Homo sapiens: one gene and its partners. The protein of the gene in region 1 purifies or fractionates together with the protein of each later gene. This does not show direct contact. Each region holds a gene or a part of one and is shown in the gene's direction. Other genes may lie near its edges. The genes, in order: MAP3K4, SCN2B, TMEM184A, RIPK2, CREB3L2 and VSIG1.

Region 1 (3,873 bases):
TTCCTTCTTCATATGCTGCTCCAATACACACACACATGCACACATACACACACACACTCACACACACTCTGCACTGGCAGTACTGAACTACTTGAAGTTCTAGGATATCTCAAAGATGTCATGCCTGCAGTCCCAAAGGGTTCTTCTCCGTGGTGCTGAATATCCCAGCTGTCAATGCCCACTGAAGCGTGTTGCTGTGTAGGAGAAGCTTTGCTTAAAAATGACTTTCTGATTAGATGGTTGTTGGCCTGGTATCCCTGAGATTGGCATTGTTTTTGGACTGGTGTTGAACTAGAATAACAACTAGTAACTGGGTTGGTTTTTATGTCCTGTGCTTGATTTTCCTCCCAGGTGGATAATCTTTTACTAGTTGTCATGCAGTCTGCGCATCTCACAATTCAGAGAAAAGCTTTCCAGCAGTCCATTGAGGGACTTATGACTCTGTGCCAGGAGCAGACATCCAGTCAGCCGGTCATCGCCAAAGCTTTGCAGCAGCTGAAGGTATTACACTGTCCTCTACATTAGCTGAGATTTTTCCTTTTTGATGAAAGTCAGTGTGTGGTAATGTGTGTAAGGTAATATCATCCAAGGAACTTGAGCTCCTGAATTGCCTGCCCACTCACCTCTCTTCCCAATACATATTTTCTTATGTCTAAACTACATATTCTGAGATTCTTCCTGAAGCTGTAGAACTTTATAATTGGAAAGGATAGAGAATTGAACTTTATGTGACTTATTCATAATGGCTACATGACTGGTTAGTGGCAAAGTTGAAAATTTAATAATTTAGGTCTCTTCATTCCCAGTGTAAATTTCATTCTCCTTTCACAATCCCCAGTATTTACTAGAGGTACTCCATATCAGCAGTGTGTAATAGAAGATTTATTTATTGTTTTGTTTAATAAATAATTCAACCAAATTAAATATAATAGAAAAAAGTTGCAGAGAAGTACAAAGGCCTTTCAAAGTTTATGACAAGCCCCAGCCTGGCTGTCTTTTTCCATTATTTCCTGTTTTTGACACTTTCTATTTTGTATCCCATGTATCAGTCTTGATCTCATCCACACTTTTCCAGGCCATCAGTTATGTCTTCTCACTCACATTAAGGCTTAACTTCTTGAAGAAGAAACATTCTCTGAAGTTACAAGTCATTTCGTAAACACTTGTTTTTCTTCTGTTGGTCTGATTTGTCTGATTTATCTATAAACATTTATTAACTAAATATTTAGGTTATCTCTCTCTATGGATTGCTGGAAGAATATTTTGTAACCATAGTAAGGGGATTGCCTGATGGAGACCTTGTGTGCACTCGTGTGTAAGGGTGGGTAGAGAGAGAGACCGATTTGGAGCTATTGTGATGTTGCTGACAGAGGTGACAAAAGCTCGAGCCAGGGCAGGGCTTCTCAGCCTCTTGGATGTGGACGTTTGGGCCCGTAACTCTTGGTCGTGGAGGGCCGTCCTGCGCATTGTAGGATGTTTAGAGCTAGGGCAGGGCTTCTCAGCCTCTTGGATGTGGACGTTTGGGCCCGTAACTCTTGGTCGTGGAGGGCTGTCCTGCGCATTGTAGGATGTTTAGAGCCAGGGCAGGGCTTCTCAGCCTCTTGGATGTGGACGTTTGGGCCCGTAACTCTTGGTCATGGAGGGCCGTCCTGCGCATTGTAGGATGTTTAGAGCCAGGGCAGGGCTTCTCAGCCTCTTGGATGTGGACGTTTGGGCCCGTAATTCTTGGTCGTGGAGGGCCGCCCTGCGCATTGTAGGATGTTTAGAGCCAGGGCAGGGCTTCTCAGCCTCTTGGATGTGGACGTTTGGGCCCGTAACTCTTGGTCGTGGAGGGCCGTCCTGCGCATTGTAGGATGTTTAGCAGCATCCCTGGCCTCTACTCACCATATCCCAGTACTTCCACTTTTTCCTCCAAATTTTGACCATCAAAAACTTCTCTGGACAACGTCTCCAGACGCTGAGGGGAGGGGGAGAAATCTGCCCCAGAAGAGAACCCCTGGACTAGGGAGTAGCAGGGAAATGAGGACAGCACGATCGGAGGAGGTCATCTAGAAGTACATGGACTTTTTCACTCTGTGGAATTGCACCCGTACTTATGGTTGAGCAACCGTCCAGGAGGAGAAAACAACAGGTGGTTGATGTATAAAAATATTGAAGATAAAAGCATCTATTCCAAGAGCAGATTATAACTAGACTGTATCATTTTAAATGCATTTTTTTCTCTTCTATTTAAGAATGCCAAATAAAATGACATAATTTCTTCTATATTTGGTAATTCCTTTACCAAGTGGCTGAATTGTTTGTAGTGGTTAATGTCTGTGTGATGATGAACGAAATCTTCCTTTAAAATGTGGTAAGTATTGTATGATTTGCTTCATTTTGCATTAATCATGGTTTGGACTCTTCAGAATGATGCATTGGAGCTATGCAACAGGATAAGCAATGCCATTGACCGCGTGGACCACATGTTCACATCAGAATTTGATGCTGAGGTTGATGAATCTGAATCTGTCACCTTGCAACAGTACTACCGAGAAGCAATGATTCAGGGGTACAATTTTGGATTTGAGGTAGGTTCAAAATAAGAGGAAACACGGTACAATTTAGTAATTGCTTGATAACTTACAGAAAGTTTTTGGAACCTTTTACAGTAAATCTGATATTGTAATCATAGCTTAATCAAGAATATCATCTTATATCACTGCTGTATATCAGAGATGTTAGTTTACTTTTAAACTGTTAGGTAATTGTCCAACTTTTATTTTGTGCTAACAGCCATCTACTTACATTTTAAAACTTTAAAGAGATGTTTTATGTCATAAAAGCACATTCTTAATTTAAACTCAGGAGTAAAACATTTATGAAACTGCATTTTGAAACACTGTACTTTCCATAATTCTTCATACTATTCAAAATATAGAAATTTTAATTGGATTTCACTTTTTGTTTTTAGAAAACATTTTAGACATGGCATTATAGTGTGTGATATTATTTAATGATCATTTCCTTAATGTTGATATACATGAAATCTTCTTACAGTATCATAAAGAAGTTGTTCGTTTGATGTCTGGGGAGTTTAGACAGAAGATAGGAGACAAATATATAAGCTTTGCCCGGAAGTGGATGAATTATGTCCTGACTAAATGTGAGAGTGGTAGAGGTACAAGACCCAGGTAATGACCAAGTAGGATGTTTCTGAAATGTGTCATGTGGGCTTGGTGGTATTTGTTCATATATGTTCTGTGGGATTCTTTTTGAGCAGACGACACAGAAGGGAACACTCTAAACTCTTCGGTGATCAGGTTTTTTTTAATGGAAAAATATGTAGAGAAAACTGCGTAACTCTTGGGAAAAAATTTTTTTTTAAATTTGTTCCAAATTTGAGTTACCTTTAAGGGAACTCATGTTCTCCTTTGACAAGTCTTCCTGATGACTAATGTATTTTCCTCCCTCATGAAATTTATTCATTAAGAAACCATTTTGGAATTTGCAGGGGTGAAATGGGTGAATCGTCTGTGAGGCTCAATACTAGCTCCACTAAAGTAAACATAGTTATTAAAGTGTCATGACTGTGTGAGAAATAGCTGAGTGTTCTGTAATTTGTAATGGAGGGATAGCATGGGGCACTTTCTTAAAGTCATTAAGCAATTTCTCCAAGTTAGAGAAAACACATTTGCTGCATCTGAGATTCAAAGTAGGAACTTTGTGTTACAAAACTCATAAATACTTGTTGAATTACAAATAAATAATTGTTGAATTACAGATGGCACCTATCATGTCTAAAATCCTCTTCCATGCTTCCCATTGGTTTCAAAACAAAATTAAATTTTAAAAAATTATTCTCCTTTCCAAAAGGTCACGCTGTAAACTTAC
Region 2 (2,540 bases), on another chromosome or scaffold:
TTTTTGGTGCATCTAATTCCACCTCTGCAAGACACTGCTTCCAAGGCTACAGTTGGGGAAGATGAAGAGATTCTAGAATCTGTGCCCTGGGAAGGGAGAAACAGCAGGGAAGAGGGGCAATACAACAGGGTCAAGGGTGCAGAGGCCAGGCAGAGTGGGTGCAGAGTGGGGGATGGGCAACCAGCCTGGTAACACCTGGGTGAGGTGAGCGAGTCAAGCCCATCTGGAAATGCTAAACTCATCAGCTCAGTACCTAACTGCCAATCAACACACTGCCAATGCGGGTGGGCTAAGCCGCCAGGATGCCTGCAGCAGATGGACGCTGCCCATCCTTGAGCCAGCCAGCTGGGGGCAGAGAGGTGGGTGGCGGGCACCTCATGCCAGCTGAGACCAAGAGTGGTTGTATACATTTCTGCAGCTTGCAGATTTCATTTTTTTGGTCACCCTTTAAGTGTCCTTCTCTCCCAGGATGAGTGAGGAGCTGTGCTGATGTTGGGAACTTATCTTTTTCCAGGATCCATAACATTTAGGGGAATTATTTGCGGGCTTTCCTAGTGTATTCTAAGAAGTTCTAACTCTCCATCAAGAAGCCCAAGATTCCTGGAGTCTTTTTTTCCTCTGCCCTGATCAACTGGGGCCCAGGAAAAGCAATGTCTCTTCACGGGCCTCAGGGCCCCAGCAGATGGGGCTGGGTCAGGAACCATCTCTGTCCCAGGTGCTCAGCCCTCATATGCATTTTCTTCTGGAGCCTCTTAGAATCTCCTCCAGAGGACTCATAGAGCTGCCTCCCCCAGGATGGTGAAGTTGGGAGCAAAATGGGGCTTCTGTAAGTAGAGGTGGAAAACCAGAGAGATGTTTCCACAGCAGCCATTTCCCTACCCTGTTTCCTAACTTATGCTGACAAGTTCTTCCTCTTCCTACCGTGGGGTTCGAGCCCCACTTCTGGTTGCATGTTCCCACCACCACGCTCTGCTGGTTTTAGTCGGCTGACTTTCTCAACTGCCCCAGCCTCTCCTGCTCTCTCAGAACCTCCCTCTGCCCCCACCCCCCATCTGTCTCTTCCTCCTAATTAAGGGCCACTGCAAAGAGAGACGGGCTGGCTAACCCATGGGATTTAGCTTATAAGAACAAAGCACAATTATTCAGGACTGAACTGCTTTGAGGTGCCTTGGAACTGGCTTTGGAAATAGCTATCTGCCCCCTAGCTATGGACTCTTCACAGTTATTTCCAGTTTATAAAAAGGAAAAGCTGATCGGATCCATGTTTCTCTCTGCGAGTCTCCTTGGGGAGGTTGGGCTGGTAAATATTTGCAAGGTCAGGTTAAGCAGACAGACAATTGAAAATACTGGGCAGGTCCAAAAGGATAGTTCCAGGCCATAGGAATGGCTTGGTGCAGTTAACGGGTGATGAAGCAAGAAATCTTCCTTCCTACTTATGTCTTAAAGATGGACAGCCTGTGTCTCTTGCTGTGCCTCTTGCTGGCGTCTTCCTTTATTGAAGCTTGCTGATGCACTGTACATAGTCTCTCTCTCTAGGTATAGATATATTATATATACAAATATCAAACATCTCACCACACCCACCCCAAAAGTTACACTGTGTGTGTGTGGGGAGGTGTAATAACTTCTCAGTGTTTTGAGTTGATTCACCAAAGGCAAATTTTGGAATGTTCTTGCGCTTTGTGCACTTGGAGGGGAAAACCCAACTACATATGCACTTTCTTGGTTGTGTGTGCTATAGAGAGGTTGGAAGGGGTGGTTGGAAGGGGAGAGAAACTGAGATGGCCCTCTGTGACTCGACTGCTGGGATGTATCTGCTTTTGGGAGCAGACTGAGTTTCTTTTGCAATTTGTCTTATTGTTTGGGTCTACTGGCAACAATAAACTATCTCCCCTGAAAATCCCTCGAGTGTGGCTTTATTCAGGGGTTCAGGGCAGGGTAGGCTGATGCTTCACCAGGATCTTAACTGGAACCCTAGGTGCTCCTTTCCTGGTAATCCCATTGGCGCTGCCAGATCTCCAGCATCTGAGGGCCTCAATGCCCCTGCCTCACAAGGGGAAGGTTGTCTACCCCACACTTGTGCCCCCACAGATGTTTCATCCCTTTGCCTTCCCCAACCCCCTGGGGACTCCGCTCACCCTGGAACAGAGTGGCTGAACACCTACTTCTTGGAGGGCTCTCGATTATTTTGGGGATGAAGACAACCCCGGAAGCTCCCAAGGCTGACTGTCATGCGGATGTTGCCTGTCCTTTGCATGGGCAGACAGGCCATCCTTCCTGCTCTGTTCCCCAAAGGTGTTGGATTAGACATTTCTTTTGCCTCCTCTGGACTCAGAAAGAATAGATGACAGCTGGTCAGAGTCTGCCCTCATGCAGTTCATGGAGAAGGGTGGCTGTGGGAAGGTTCAGGTGGCTCATGTCCCATCTACATACTGCTGGATCCTATATATATGTGCCAAAGCAGCCCTAAGAAGTTTAGGACCAAGGGCAACCTCCTGGCTAGGGGCTCCACTGTCCCAGACAGGCCTTTTTTTCTCCCT
Region 3 (2,609 bases), on another chromosome or scaffold:
CTGGGAAGGAGGGAACTGGCCCCAGGCCACACAGATGCTGCGAGTTGGGATTATGATCGGGTGCAGTGGCTCACACCTGTAATTCCAGCACTTGGGGAGGCCAAGGCGAGTGGATTGCTTGAGCCCAGGAGTCTGAGACCAGCCTGGGCAACATGGTGAAACCCCATCTCTACAAAAAAAAAATACAAAAATTAGCTGGGCGTGGTGGTGCGTGCCGGCGGTCCCAGCTACTCAGGAGGCTGAGATGGGAGGATTGCTTGAGCCTGGGAGGTCGAGGCTGCAGTGAACTGTGATCACGCCCCTGCACTCCAGCTTGGGTGACAAAGCAAGATACTGTCTCAAAAAACTCGAGTTGGGATTTCACCCTGCGTGGTCCAGCACTGAACAGCGTTCACACCTCGGTCAGCTCAGCCCCAAAAACGGGGAAGGCCGGGCGGGGTGGGGACGGCATGCGGGCAGGCCCGTGGCTTTTCGGAGGAGTCCACGGGCTTCCGGCCACTGTGCAGGGGCGCTTTGCTCTCTGCTCCCAGACAGACCCTGTCTTGCTCACAGCTTCCTGCAGGCTCCTCTGAGAGTCCAGCAAAGCTGGGCGAGATGTCTCCCAGGGAAGGGGAACACTGACAGCCGTGCTGCTCTCTGCTCCTTCCACTGGAAGGGAGAGGCTGCATGGACAGGGGGCTCCGGGTGGGGCAGATGGGGACACTCAGGACTGCGGCCTGACCCTCAGAGACTGAGCCCAGGACGTGGTCACCTGACCAGCACCTCCCCCGTGGCTGTCCCAGCCTCACGGTCACGGCCCAGCAGTCCGGGAAAGCCACTTACACGTAGTGCCCGGATCCTGACCCCGGTGAGGGACAGGCAGGGTCCCCTGGGATTGGGGGGGGGGTGTGGTTCTTGGCCCAAGAAAGCCCCAGCTGAAAGCACCAGCTACGCAACGAAAGGGTCTGAAACCAGAAAATTCTTTATTGCAAAGGTACAAAAGCAGTCACAGCAGCAGGACGCACGGCAATAAATTAGGTGGTGGCCGCAGGGACGGGGCAGGGCGGCGGCGGCCAGACACGGGCCCACATGTGATCTGTTTTCAATAATTTATATCATGATAAAAAGCAGCACAAAAAATAAATAATGAAATGGAACTGCCAAGTAGCACAGAAGCCAGGGTGAGGCGGTGTGGCGGCGTGGCGGCATAGGGGGCCGGGGTCCCCACGCCCTGGAAACGCAAAGACCTGGATCTCTTTGGGAAGCCGGAGGCACGGAGACAGAAAACAAACCCACGTGACAAAGAGTCCCTCGTCTTTTTCTTAAATAAAAAAATCCATATATTAAATCATGACAATGAAATTTCAACAATCTGAAAAGAAAAGCAGAACACACCGTGCTTCCCCGGCCCAGCTCTGGGCGGTGACAGCGGCTCCGTCCACCCTGGGGACCAGGGAGTCCCTTCTCCAGCAAAGCACTGCAGGCCAAGGGCAGGTAGAAGCCCACGGCCCACAAGACGTGGACACCAAGAACCCCAAGACGGGACAGAACCGGCCACCCGCTGCGGCCTGTCCTGCGGGGCCCAGCTGCCTGGTACAGTCCGTGGGGAGATGAAGGGGGACGGCGGGCAGCCCGGGCCTCCGCTTTGCTCCCAACTCCCACCTGTGCCCGTGCCCCCGGCTCTGCTCTGATAGATTTACAGTATCAAACTGGAAAAGAAAGATTGTTACGAAAAATCTGTAGATAAACTGTGAATATAATTTTATATCTCTATATATTTTCTGTTTCTCTCTTTAAATATCCCCCTGGTCCTTATGACATCCAATATGGATTACCTACCACGGCCACGGGGGCAACGGCTGTTTGGGAACACGCAGGCCTTTGCTCTGTAGGGACCCAGTGGTCCTGGCGGGCCTGCAGCTTCCCACTCAACTTCTAACAGTAGACACAGAACCAAGTCGCAGCCCCGGGGCTGTCTGTCCTCTGCCCTCCCAGCGTGGCTGGCACCCGCCTGGGCTCTGTAGCTGGTGGGGGCTGTTACTGGGTGGGCAGGGGCAGCCGAGAAGGAGCCAGGGCCCCAGGCACCACCTTGCAGGTCTTATGTGGCGGCCCCCGGCCGGCGGCTCACATTCCGCCAGCTCCCCCAGGCAGGGGCTCCGCAACCCCCGCGGCTCTCGCTGCAGAGACCCCAGTCACAGGAGGGACCCTCAAGGCGGCTCTCCAGGAAAAGGAAGCCCAAGGTGGAGTGCCAAGCCCACTGGTGCCTCAGTGCTCTTGGAAGGAGGAGCAGGCAAAGGCTCCGGGTGAGGACTGAGTGCTGAGGCCAGCCACACCTGCAGCCCGTGGCTGTGCTCCTGGGGGTGTGCGCGCAGGAGCCACGTCCACGAAGCTCTCCTGGACTGGTGCCTGCTGCCTCCCCACCCGCCGCGCCCTCTGGAGTGCCAGGCTCACTCCTGAGCTCTTCTACAAGCCAGCTGCATCCTGGTCCTGCCCCTCAAGGCTTTCCACCTGCTCTCGCACACGGCTCCCGCCTCCTCCCACCACTCCACGCAACGTCCTCCTCCTTCCACCTCCACATCCATGTCCACCAACATCCCCCAGGCTGCACCCCCTCTCCCTAGACTGCAGCA
Region 4 (3,873 bases), on another chromosome or scaffold:
TTGTGAATTTTCCCTTTATGTTCAATTTCAATATTCTCTGTCAGGGAAAAATGAGGAAATATTATTCCTTCATTTGGGTAGGAATTCCCTCTGTACTCCTCGCTCTCCCTGTAACACAAGGTGTTAGTAGTAATAAATTCTATGTGTCCATTTTGAATGCATGGTTAATGTTGGGGTGTGGCAAAATTCTTATATCCTATTTAACCATTTATTCTAATTATAAACTCTATGCAGCTTAACCCTGTAATTGACATCTGAAGTTAAACTGTAGGCAAGATATTTCTACTACCAAAGAAGATAGTGCTGAGAGCAGAAAAAAGGCAGTAGAATAGAGCTCCATGAGACAATTTTTTTCTTGTTCTTTGTTCTTTGTGAAAAATAATATCATTTAATTAAAGGGCATAGCTTATCTGGGTGTCCAAGAATTAAATCATCCACAAAAAGTTAATCTTGCATGTAACGTTAAGCTTGTATTACAGTAATTTCCTAATTTTTTAACTTAAAGTTGATTTTGTTTCCAAACTACATGAGCATTTATCATCTTCATTGTATACAGTAATTCTTTGCTGCCTTATCACTTTGAAAAATGGTATCTTCAGTCAGCTTTTAAAAATAGTGCTATTTTAGTTTATTATGCAGAGTTCATTTAAAATATGTAACATGTATGTTCTTATGTTAAACAGCTATGCAGTTATCACATGGGAAGTGTTATCCAGAAAACAGCCTTTTGAAGGTAAGTATGGTTTGACTTTTTTATGCTCAATAACATCATGTTAGTAGGTCACTCTCAGAACTATCTAAAAATCATGTTATTTTAAATCTGCTTATTCATTTTGTGGAAAACACACTAAAACAACCATTTATCAGTTGTGAATGCATCACATACTGCAAAATATACCGGGTTAAGGATCCAGTTGTGAGTCTACTATATACTGGAAAATGTACTGGATTAAGGATCAGAAAAACCCAGATTTTAATTCTTGTTCTGACAGTAATTAGCTCTGTGATCAAGTCACAAATCTCTTGCGTCCTCATTTTTGTCGCCTGCATAATAAGAATTTTAAATTACTATTTCCAAGTTCTAGTCTAGCTGTAAAATTATTTATATGATAATTTAATTACTACCCCCTCTATAAAGACTAGCAAATATCGAAGACTAATCTGTCCTTTTTATTCCCTGAAAATATTGTTTATTTCTTTATTTTGAGGTTTGTGTAGGTCAGCTTGTTGTGTAACAAAAAACAACCTCGGAATCTCCGTAGCTTATGAAATAAACATTTATTTCTCATTCACATTAAATATTGGTTGCTGTAGCCCTTCTTAGTTCTGCAAGGTTTCGCTCAGCTCTGCTTTACAAATACTCTGTTGACCAAATCCAATCACATGGTCAAGCCCAAAATTAATGAGGTGAGGATATAAACTCATTCCATAGGAATCAGACAAGTCTGGCAATGGTTTGGGGTATATATATTCCTTTTACAGAAAGGGGGGTAAGGCATCATTCCTAAAATTTCAATATTCACTTATTTTCTTTTAGTTAGTTTTAGATGTAAGTAATATGCTTAATCATAATATATTACTAATGAATGCAATCTATTTGTTTTGACAGATGTCACCAATCCTTTGCAGATAATGTATAGTGTGTCACAAGGACATCGACCTGTTATTAATGAAGAAAGTTTGCCATATGATATACCTCACCGAGCACGTATGATCTCTCTAATAGAAAGTGGATGGGCACAAAATCCAGATGAAAGACCATCTTTCTTAAGTGAGTATATAGTTTTAACCTAGACTCTTTGAATTACAGAATTAGTTAATATACTGTGAATAAAATATTCCTTGAAAAATTGTGCAAATTAGATGACTAGCTAGAAGTTGTTTAAATTATTTTCTGTCTTATCATAGCATTTATATATGAGTAACTCCTTCTAGAGCAGAATTGAGAATTCCTAACAAAAAAGAGAAATCGTGTGATAGGAGTAACAATTTCTTTCATATATTTAACAAATATGTCTTAAACCCCTACCATGTGCTATGTATATACTGGAGTGAGCCCTGGGAACAGAGTAGTAAACAAGACAAACTTTCTGTAGCTAGTTCACATTCTAGTTGAGAAGGCAGAGTGAAAACAAATAAATAAGCAAGATACACAAATTGTGACAGTCTTATAAGGAAATAAGCAAGGTAATAGACTAATTAAGGGAGGGAAACAAAGGCCTTTTTTTAGGGGCAAACATTTGAGCTGACATTTGAAGCTTGAAAAAGAGCCAGTCATTCAAATGCTGAAGAAAGAGTATTCAGCCAAACAAAACAGCAAGCATAAAGGCTCTGAGCCTAGAAGAGGAAAAAGTTTTATATTCTCAAGAAACAGTGAGAAGGCCTGTGTGGCTGGAATACAGTGAGCAAGGAAAGGAATTAGATGATATTGGAGAGTTAAGAGAGAGGCTATTGGCCATCATAAAAAGGTTAGATTTTTATTCCAAGTGCAATGGAAAGCCATTAAAGTATCTTTTGCAGGGAAGTGACATGATCTGATAGAAGTTTAGGTGAAATTCTTACTGCTGTGTGGAAAGTTGATTGGAGAAAGACAAAAGTGGAAGCAAAGAGGCTAGAAAAGACACTTTCAGGAATATTCTAATTAAGGTGGAAATTCTGAAGACAGAAGAGTTACAGAATTAAGATAGTATTTCAGAGGTAGAATGGATCAGACATCCAAATGTAAATGTAGGAGAAAATCTTCATGACCTAGGGTTAGGCAGAATCTTTAAATATGACATCAAAAATAAATAGGATTCATTAAAAAATTTATAATCAGACTTTGCAAACATTGGAAACTTTTCCACTTCGAAAGGTACTATTGAGAAAAGAGAAAGCCAGGCATTTAGTGTCCACGACTTTAGTCCCAGGTACTTAGGAGGCTGAGGCAGGAGGATCACTTGAGCCCAGGAGTTTGAGGATGTGTAATAGTGCACTGTGATCGTGCCTATGAATAGCTACTGCACTCCAACCTGGGCAACATAGCAAGACCTCATTTCCAAGAAGGAAAAAAAAAAGCAGAGCCACAGACTGGGAGAAAATATTTGCATAACATGTATCTGCTAAAGGGCTTGATTCTAGAATATATAAAAAACCCTGACAAGTCAATAATAGGACATATAGCCCTATTTTTAAATGAGTAAAAGATTTGAATTTCACCAAGGGAGATATACAAATAGCTAAAAAGCACATAAAATGATGCTTAATATTATTAGTCATTTGGAAATGCAAATTAAAACTGCAATGAGTTACCACTTCATACCCACAAAATAGCTATAATTAAAGACAGAAAATAACAAGTGTTGACAGTGATGTGGCAGAACCAAAATCCGTATACATTGTTGGTGGGAATATAAAATGATGCTGCCACTTTGGAAAACGGTTTGGCAGTTTCTTAAAAATGAAAGATAAATTTACCATACAACCAAGCAATCCACTAACAGGTAAACCAAGAGAAATGAAAACATATGTTCACACAGTTGTATGTGATTAGTGATAGCAGCATTGTTTATAATAGCCAGCAAGTAGAAACGGTCATAATTACTGCTGCTACTACTACAACAATACATGAATCTGTTGTTCCAGGAAGAGTCCAGGATCCTAATATAAAATTGAACATCACTAACATATTGATAGTCTGGACTGGTTCATCTAAGAAGGGAATATACATAGCAAAGAGAGGACCCATAGTAAAGCTCTGAGGCATTCCAGCACTTAGAAATTGAGAAGAGGAAGAAGAAAAAGGATTAAGGAAGAGAAGACAGTAGAGAGTGTAGTCCTTGTGTCTTGGAAGTCAAGGAGGGGTATAGTCGGACATGTTTAATCTGCCAGGAG
Region 5 (3,177 bases), on another chromosome or scaffold:
GATTTGACACCAATATGGGCAAAATTAGATAACCTTTTGGTTAATATAAATGATTTTGATTTGGAGGCCTAATTTGTAGATTGTGAAAGCAGCTTTTAGTTTAACTTATTCACAGACCCCTTATAATTACCATGTTTTTTTTTTTCTTCCTAAATCTCTTGGTTCAGCTTGTGAATCTTACGTGCCCGTAAAGTTGGGATGTTGAATTGGCTCTTCTTTGTTCTGGCAGTGAGTCAAGTGTCCAGCATTTTTTCATAAGTGTTTTTTAAAATTGTTCTCCAGCATTTTATGGCTCCTCCCTCCCATGTCCTCAGACCCAGCAAAAGCGTAGAGGCAGAATTAGAGGCCTCTCCAGGCCAGCTCCTCTGCCCACATGTCATACAAGGTGTGAATTTGAGCACAGTCCAGAAATGGAGACATCCCACCCCCAGTTGAATAATGGCCCATTCATGCCAACCTTGCCAACACGGAGAGGGCAGAGATGCACTAGAAGACCTTCATCCTCCCCTTCCTCTGCCCCAAGTCACTACAGTTGGTTCTATTGAAGCCAGTCTTTAAGAAACCTGGGTTAAAGACACCAGCACTTCTGCTTGCTGGGCTGGCTGGACCTGTGAAGCCATGGGCAGGTAGTGCCCTCTTGAGAGTCATTTTATTTGGCCACCTTCAGGTGAGACTATCCATAGACACATGCTAGGATAGGCCCCGCTGGGAGGGCAGTTACAGGAGAGAGTAGGTGGTGGTGACGTGAGGGCTGTGAAGGATCCAGAGACAAGACTTAGATGTTTCGTTCATTCACTCACTCATTCAGTTACTCCTAAGACTTTTCAGTTTCATAAGGAAGAGTGTTGCCTGAGGCCCTAGGGAATATTGGGGAATAGAAGGGATTGAGGAAACATTAATAATAGTTATTCAAAAGACCCAAATGCTTATACTTCTCTCTCCCTTCTTCTCTCTCTGACACACACACACACACACACACACACACACACACACACGTGCACATTCCTCCCTTACATGCTCATTTGTGCCTTAAATGTGCCTTATAGGTAAATCCAGGATGACTGAGGAATCCCTCGTCACTGGGAGATTTTGTATATATTCTTTTATTATTAGATTGAGTTGGGTGTGGGGAAAAATTTTTTTCTGAAGGCTCAAAAGTGGTTTCCTAAAAGTGAGCCACTATCAGATTTGCACATCAGGAGAAAAGAAATAGGGTTACGTCCATTAGGAAAATCCCAGTTTGCAGGAGTGCAATCACATCAAAAAAACAACCAGCCAGGATTAAAGGTATTATAAATCCTCATAGCGGAACATTTCTCAGGGCAAAGGAACCTGGCTCATTTGAAGATTAATGTTCCATGCCTTTGTGGTCAAAGGGTCAGCACTTAACACAGGAAAAAACTAGGTGTTGTTTTGTTTTGTTATTTTGGACAACATAAAATTCAGGAATGTTTTATTTAGCCTTGGTTTCTAGAAGGAAGGGAAATAATATTTCTTGAGCATTTACTAGGGTGTTGCGTGCTGTGCTAAGTAAATTTTAAGTCTTTCAGTTTTATAGATACGGAAAACAAGGGTGACTCTTTACCACAGGATGAATAAAGAACTAAGTAATATGGGAAATGCAGCAATTTCTGGACTAGCTGAGCCGATTCCTTCCTGTGAGCACACTGTAAGCTTTCAAGTTCTCTGGGCAGGAATTACAGCACCTGTCCCCTGCAATGGCCCTGCTGTGTGATGCTCATCGCTTCCCTTCGTGCTGGAGCAGTCCCCCAGGTGTCCATCTCCTATCTTTTTGTTCCAATCTTCTGTGAGTTCCAGCTAGCAGGCTTTACATCTGGGGAAAGGAAAACCAGGGGTTTTAGCTCTGTTCTCTGCTCCCATCCTTCGCTCACCAGCTGAGTGAGAACATGAACTTTTTGCACCATGTACCCATGGCTTACACTACTTAGAAAATCACCTTTTCAGATAAAACAGTTTATGAGTTCATAGAGAACACCAGCACTCTTTGACAAAACTGTGAGTGACCCTTTTTAAACAATGCTGAGCAGGCCCTGAGCTATAATCAACGGTGAGCTTTAATGTCTATGCTGACAGTTAGGTTTTGCTCTCTTTTGTAACAGGTTACGTAGACCAGCAGTGTTTAAATCTAAATACGTTGTGAGTCTGTTATCTGTCCTATCGCGTTTTTTAAATGACTTTTTATTCTTTATCATAGCTAAGTAAATACCAAAAAAAAAAAAAAGCTTTGTAGGACACTTGTACTTAGTTTGGGAAAAAAAAATAAATTGAAATTGTTATGCTTTTGTATTTCCATTTCTTGCAAATAAATATTTTTTCTTAAATAGTAAGATGTTGCCCAGTCTTTATAATCTTGGTACTAATTTGAAAAGCATGTTGTTTTTTTATGAACATGGGTTTGTGTATGTGTGCCGAACCGTTCTTTCCTGGATATCTACTTGGCCTGAAAGAAGAGCCTCAAACCAGCAATTGGTATGTTATATAGGACTGAATCCAAGCCTTAGTTGGAGGAATATTGAGAATGTAATTGTTTTTTCAGGCAGCCACGGGAAGAAAAACAGTATCCTCTAGAGACTTATGCAGCATGACTGTTATTTTTATTGTCTCCTCTAACTATTCCCTAACTAGATTTCAACTGTCTGTGGATTTGATTTTGCTTTCCCCATCTCTGGTTGCTTGAGAAAGATCCTTTGGACTTGAGCCAGAAAGGAATGATCCTTCTTCCTACGAACAGTTGCAGAGGATGTCTAACAGATTCATGCTCCAGAAATTCTGATGAAATGGTTGATAAAGGTCAGTGCACTCAAGCAGAGTAATCTTCGTTCCATTACAATGTCTGAATCCAAATGTAGCTTTCTTCACTCAGAGAGTGGGGGCTTCGTTTAGTCTCAGACTGACTTGGGATGTGAGAGACTAAGGCCAGGGACTGTGCTTACTTGGAAAAAAAAAACAAAACATGGGATTTTTTTGTTTGTTTGTTTTGTGTTTTTTTTTCCTTAGCAGCATGCTCAACCCTGCCCTGGCCTTGAGGGTACATTAATCTGCTCTATCTTGTCCTCTTCAGAGCACCTTGACCTTTTGTTGTTACACAAGGGGGCCTTTCCCTTCAGAGGCTTTCATTATCATGCCCCACTCTTTCTTTTGTGGGGAGCCTATTTC
Region 6 (3,873 bases), on another chromosome or scaffold:
CCTGGTATTCCTCAATACCTAGGGGCTGATGTTATCTCTTACTGACTATCCCCTTTGGAGAACAGAGACTGAAGTATCCCACAGGTCTTCCCACCAAGAAGGCCAGGATATTCATTAGCATGGTCCTTCTCTCAGAGAAACATTCCTCTCAGAAAATATGAACAGCTTTAGATAGTCAATCCCTCAGCAGGGAATCTCAGCTGAAAACTCTAGGCCAGGTATGGGCAGGCTAACATGGAAATTTGGGGTGGTCTGGTGCCTTTCTGGTCACACAGATGGCTTCATCTTCCATCCAGTCTGTTAATGCTAACACTACAGAGACCCCACCTGTCCCTGAACAGACCATGCCTTGACTCTGCTTAGCATGAATCTCTCAGACAATACTTATTCTTCAAGAATGTTCATAGTGAAAAAATACCCTTTGCCAGTCTCATAAACAACTTAGACAACTTCTTTCCCAGGACCTAGTGTTCTTATGTTCTCTGGCTTCTCAGGTTTTACAACCTGAAATACACAGGACAGAGCCACACAATAAAGAGTTGTCTGCCCAAAATGCCAGTGTCACCCCTACTGAGAAATACTGCAAGTTCTTCCCCACCCCACCATCAAATTTATGTATTGTGTCCCATTCACTTTCTGCTAAATCTGATAAATTAATCTCATGGTAAGGTGTTAGGGACTAGCGAAAGCTTATTTTATTCTCTTCTAAAGAATGCATTGAATGGGACCTTCCATGCCTTCTTCCAAAAGGAGCAACTCAAATGGCAGATACCCAGGCAAATGGAGGGTTGGTAAGAGAGTTGGTTTGGAAGCAAGAGAGTCTTTCTTTTGGTATCCCATTCCTTCCACATGCCATCCCTGCACCACAATACAGTCCAAATAAAATTCTGAGCTTGTGACCATTGCCACCTTATACCTGCACACCCCTTCCCTATCCTATGGCTAGCCCCTCTATCAGCAGTACAAGAAAGCAAGAAGCTGGAAAGGAAAGAATGGGTGGTTTGCTGTGGATGTCCATGTCCTCCACCTTCCCAGAAGGAATCTGCAAAAGCAGCTCTGGAAGCTAACTCCAACTCAGATTCAAACAGAAAGCAGACTGAATTCTTTCAACCCTTCTTGTTTATACTCCATGCTTCTAGTTAGAGAGCAGTGTCACTAAGCTGAGGAAAAAGTCTTTTAGGACAAATCTGGTTCCCAGCTGCACGGCCTTGTGTGAATAGGAACTTGGCACAGTAGGAAGGGAAAGGTTGCTCTGCAAAGAACTGAGGGGCCTACAATTGCAGCTGGCAAATATTGAGGGCATCATGTGGTGAACATACTCAGCATGGGAAGCATCATGCCAATAAATAGCAACAATTGGCAGGAGAAAGGTTGGGCTGGAGCAGGGAATGGAATGGTCCCAAAAGGAGAAGGTTGCCCAGGAATCATCTTTCTCATCTTAAGAAGCACTGTGAGTGCCATCTTAATATATTCAGTGGGAATCAGAAGGTCTGAATTCCAGGTCTGACTGTAAATTGTGTGACCTTGGGAAAATGGCTCCCTCTATTGAGGCCTCGGTGTCCTTTTTTTGTATTAGAAAAGGATGAATTCGAGTTTACTAACCGCAGGCCTCTGGGTCAGATTTGGCCAGTGGATGTATTTCAGTCGGCCTGCCCAGTATTTTGTTTGTTTGTTTCAACAGTTCGAATGCCTTGTTTGCGTTGACTTTTCCGTTCCCTGCAGTCCCCATATCTGTTATGAGCTTACCACTACTTACCAGCCCCTCCCAGCCATTTCCCATATTTCCAATATCCATCGGGCTCCTGAAGGCCCCTTAACCTTAGAAACCACAAACCAAACTATCTCACAGAGGTCTTATAATTAATGTGCAATTATGACTCCACCCATCAGCCTCTAGCGTCACCCTGGGGGCAGGCAGAGAGGACCTTGGGAGAAAGCAGGGCAGTCTACCATGAACCCAAGCACAAAGTGCAGGTGGGTAAAAAATTAACAAGCGCCCCTTAAGGGAACACTGGGATGGATTTCCTTAAAAAAATCACCTCCTCCCCACCTCCACCCAAAGATGTGGCCCATTGTACATCCGGGGCTTTTTCTGGATCTCCATTGCTTTGACGTCTAAATTGATAATATTCTTTCTTTGAAAAGTGTACAAGCCACACAGGATCATGGGCCAGGCTTTGGCCACTGTTCAGCTTTGATTTTTAAAAGAGTTATTCTTTTATGGAAAGTGGAATCAAGTTGTAGCCCTTCCTATATGATTAGATAAGCAGTTTCAGGAAAACACTTCTTTCTTTTTTTCTTTACAAGGACAGTGTGACTGTGTGGACTTCCCCTTAACAGAAAGCCCCTCCATGTATGTGTCTGGCTGCTGCTGTCTACCCCTAGGTACTTTACTTCTTACAGAGAACTGTGAAGCCAAAGCCTTGGCTCTTTTAGGTCTCCATTGTTAGCCCTCACTACCCCCATTTCTGTCTCTAATACCTTTTAGTGTCAATCGTGAGAGGGCAAAATGTATTAGACTACAGCATGAGGAGCTAGCATGTAAGAGGTAGTAAAGGTCTTTTTCATGGGTAAGGTTCCAGGGCCTCATTGCTTATATACTCATTTCACCTTGACTCATGCCCAACTATGGGACTTTTACAGTGGGCATGGACACATGGATACAGTGGACACTTTTACTTCTTCTCATATCCTAATTCTGGCCTAAAACACACCATTTTGGCCTCAAGATCTCTGCAGAAATAAGGTCCTTTTCACCTGGATCCTCTGGGACTTGCTGTGGGCCTCAGGCGTGACTGATGTTGTATCTCATTGTGATGTCATCAAGCATCAGTATAAAACAGGGCTGATGTTTTACACTGTCCACAGTCTCCTTGGGAGGAGGGGAAGTGGCCAGATGTTGAGGCTGTGAAGGGCACTCTTGATGGACAGCAGGCTGAACTCCAGGTAAGAAACAACAAGACCTCAAACTGTCAATTAGAAAGTAAATAAGCCCCATGCTGCCTAGTGAAATTGAAAGCCTGATAGCGTGGGTGCCAACTCAAATGAAAGTAATCCTCTGATGTATTGAACCTCCTTCTGTCCCACTTGAATACCTGGAGTTAATCCTGGCTTTCTGGTTTGGAAGTCAAACAAGACCATTCTGGGGCAAGAGTTTGTGATTTCAGTAGGTGTGAATGAATGAATTATAAATGGCTGCATTTATAATGCAAGCAAGAAAACACGTTGATGTTAGAAAAAACGGGAGAGAAACAAATAGTTTTCTCTGTAAATGTACTCTTTTCCTGGGATTTTTCCCTCAAAATCCAGCTTTCTGCCTTAGTTTTAAAATATATTGACTTTCTGCTTAAAGGAGAATACATTTGAATTCATCTAGACAATATCTTTTGGTTTTCTAATTGCTTTCCCTCTTTTATTGGCCTGTTAAGGTAAAGCCCACAGTACAAGGAATTAGGAAAATTGGATTCCAGATCTGTCTCAACCGTCAATTTTGCCTTTTATTTTTTAACCTCTCTGGGCTTTGGTTTCTTCTGTAAACTGAGGGAAGTGAATTAAATGAACTGTAAGGCCTTCCAGTAGATTTTATGAAAAATTAGTCTCACCAGACTAAGACAATACAGTTTATTGAACAATAACAATCACTTGAATAATATACATTTACATGAAACCAACAAAACATGTACATAGAAGGTGTGTATTATGAAGGGACCTCAGGAATTACCTAATCCAGTGATTTCCCAGCTTCAGTCATTCATGTACCATCTACATGATTTTTGTCATATTTGTGTATCACCAGCACTATTTGTTATTTAATGTTATTTTCTGTATTGACTTGTTTTCTTAAAATCTTAAAAAATATCTACCTTAATCTAC

What was found.
Region 2: the proteins of MAP3K4 (region 1) and SCN2B purify together in Homo sapiens (co-immunoprecipitation; one large-scale study listed by IntAct). This does not show direct contact.
Region 3: the proteins of MAP3K4 (region 1) and TMEM184A purify together in Homo sapiens (co-immunoprecipitation; one large-scale study listed by IntAct). This does not show direct contact.
Region 4: the proteins of MAP3K4 (region 1) and RIPK2 purify together in Homo sapiens (affinity purification with western blotting, with the first as the bait; one study listed by BioGRID). This does not show direct contact.
Region 5: the proteins of MAP3K4 (region 1) and CREB3L2 purify together in Homo sapiens (co-immunoprecipitation; one large-scale study listed by IntAct). This does not show direct contact.
Region 6: the proteins of MAP3K4 (region 1) and VSIG1 purify together in Homo sapiens (co-immunoprecipitation; one large-scale study listed by IntAct). This does not show direct contact.

The regions. Positions count from the first base shown.
Region 1 is NC_000006.12:161,088,971-161,092,843, forward strand, and holds part of MAP3K4 (mitogen-activated protein kinase kinase kinase 4), read left to right. Parts: intron 1-351; coding exon 352-501; intron 502-2,408; coding exon 2,409-2,570; intron 2,571-3,039; coding exon 3,040-3,173; intron 3,174-3,873. UniProt on the Homo sapiens protein: Component of a protein kinase signal transduction cascade. Activates the CSBP2, P38 and JNK MAPK pathways, but not the ERK pathway. Specifically phosphorylates and activates MAP2K4 and MAP2K6.
Region 2 is NC_000011.10:118,162,166-118,164,705, reverse strand, and holds the end of SCN2B (sodium channel regulatory subunit beta-2 precursor), read left to right. Parts: 3' UTR 1-1,900; downstream 1,901-2,540. UniProt on the Homo sapiens protein: Regulatory subunit of multiple voltage-gated sodium (Nav) channels directly mediating the depolarization of excitable membranes.
Region 3 is NC_000007.14:1,541,378-1,543,986, reverse strand, and holds the end of TMEM184A (transmembrane protein 184A), read left to right. Parts: 3' UTR 1-1,752; downstream 1,753-2,609. UniProt on the Homo sapiens protein: Acts as a heparin receptor in vascular cells. May be involved in vesicle transport in exocrine cells and Sertoli cells.
Region 4 is NC_000008.11:89,771,058-89,774,930, forward strand, and holds part of RIPK2 (receptor-interacting serine/threonine-protein kinase 2), read left to right. Parts: intron 1-683; coding exon 684-733; intron 734-1,609; coding exon 1,610-1,771; intron 1,772-3,873.
Region 5 is NC_000007.14:137,874,150-137,877,326, reverse strand, and holds the end of CREB3L2 (cyclic AMP-responsive element-binding protein 3-like protein 2), read left to right. Parts: 3' UTR 1-2,348; downstream 2,349-3,177. UniProt on the Homo sapiens protein: Transcription factor involved in unfolded protein response (UPR).
Region 6 is NC_000023.11:108,061,842-108,065,714, forward strand, and holds part of VSIG1 (V-set and immunoglobulin domain-containing protein 1 isoform 2 precursor), read left to right. Parts: intron 1-2,868; coding exon of another isoform or gene 2,869-2,946; intron 2,947-3,873.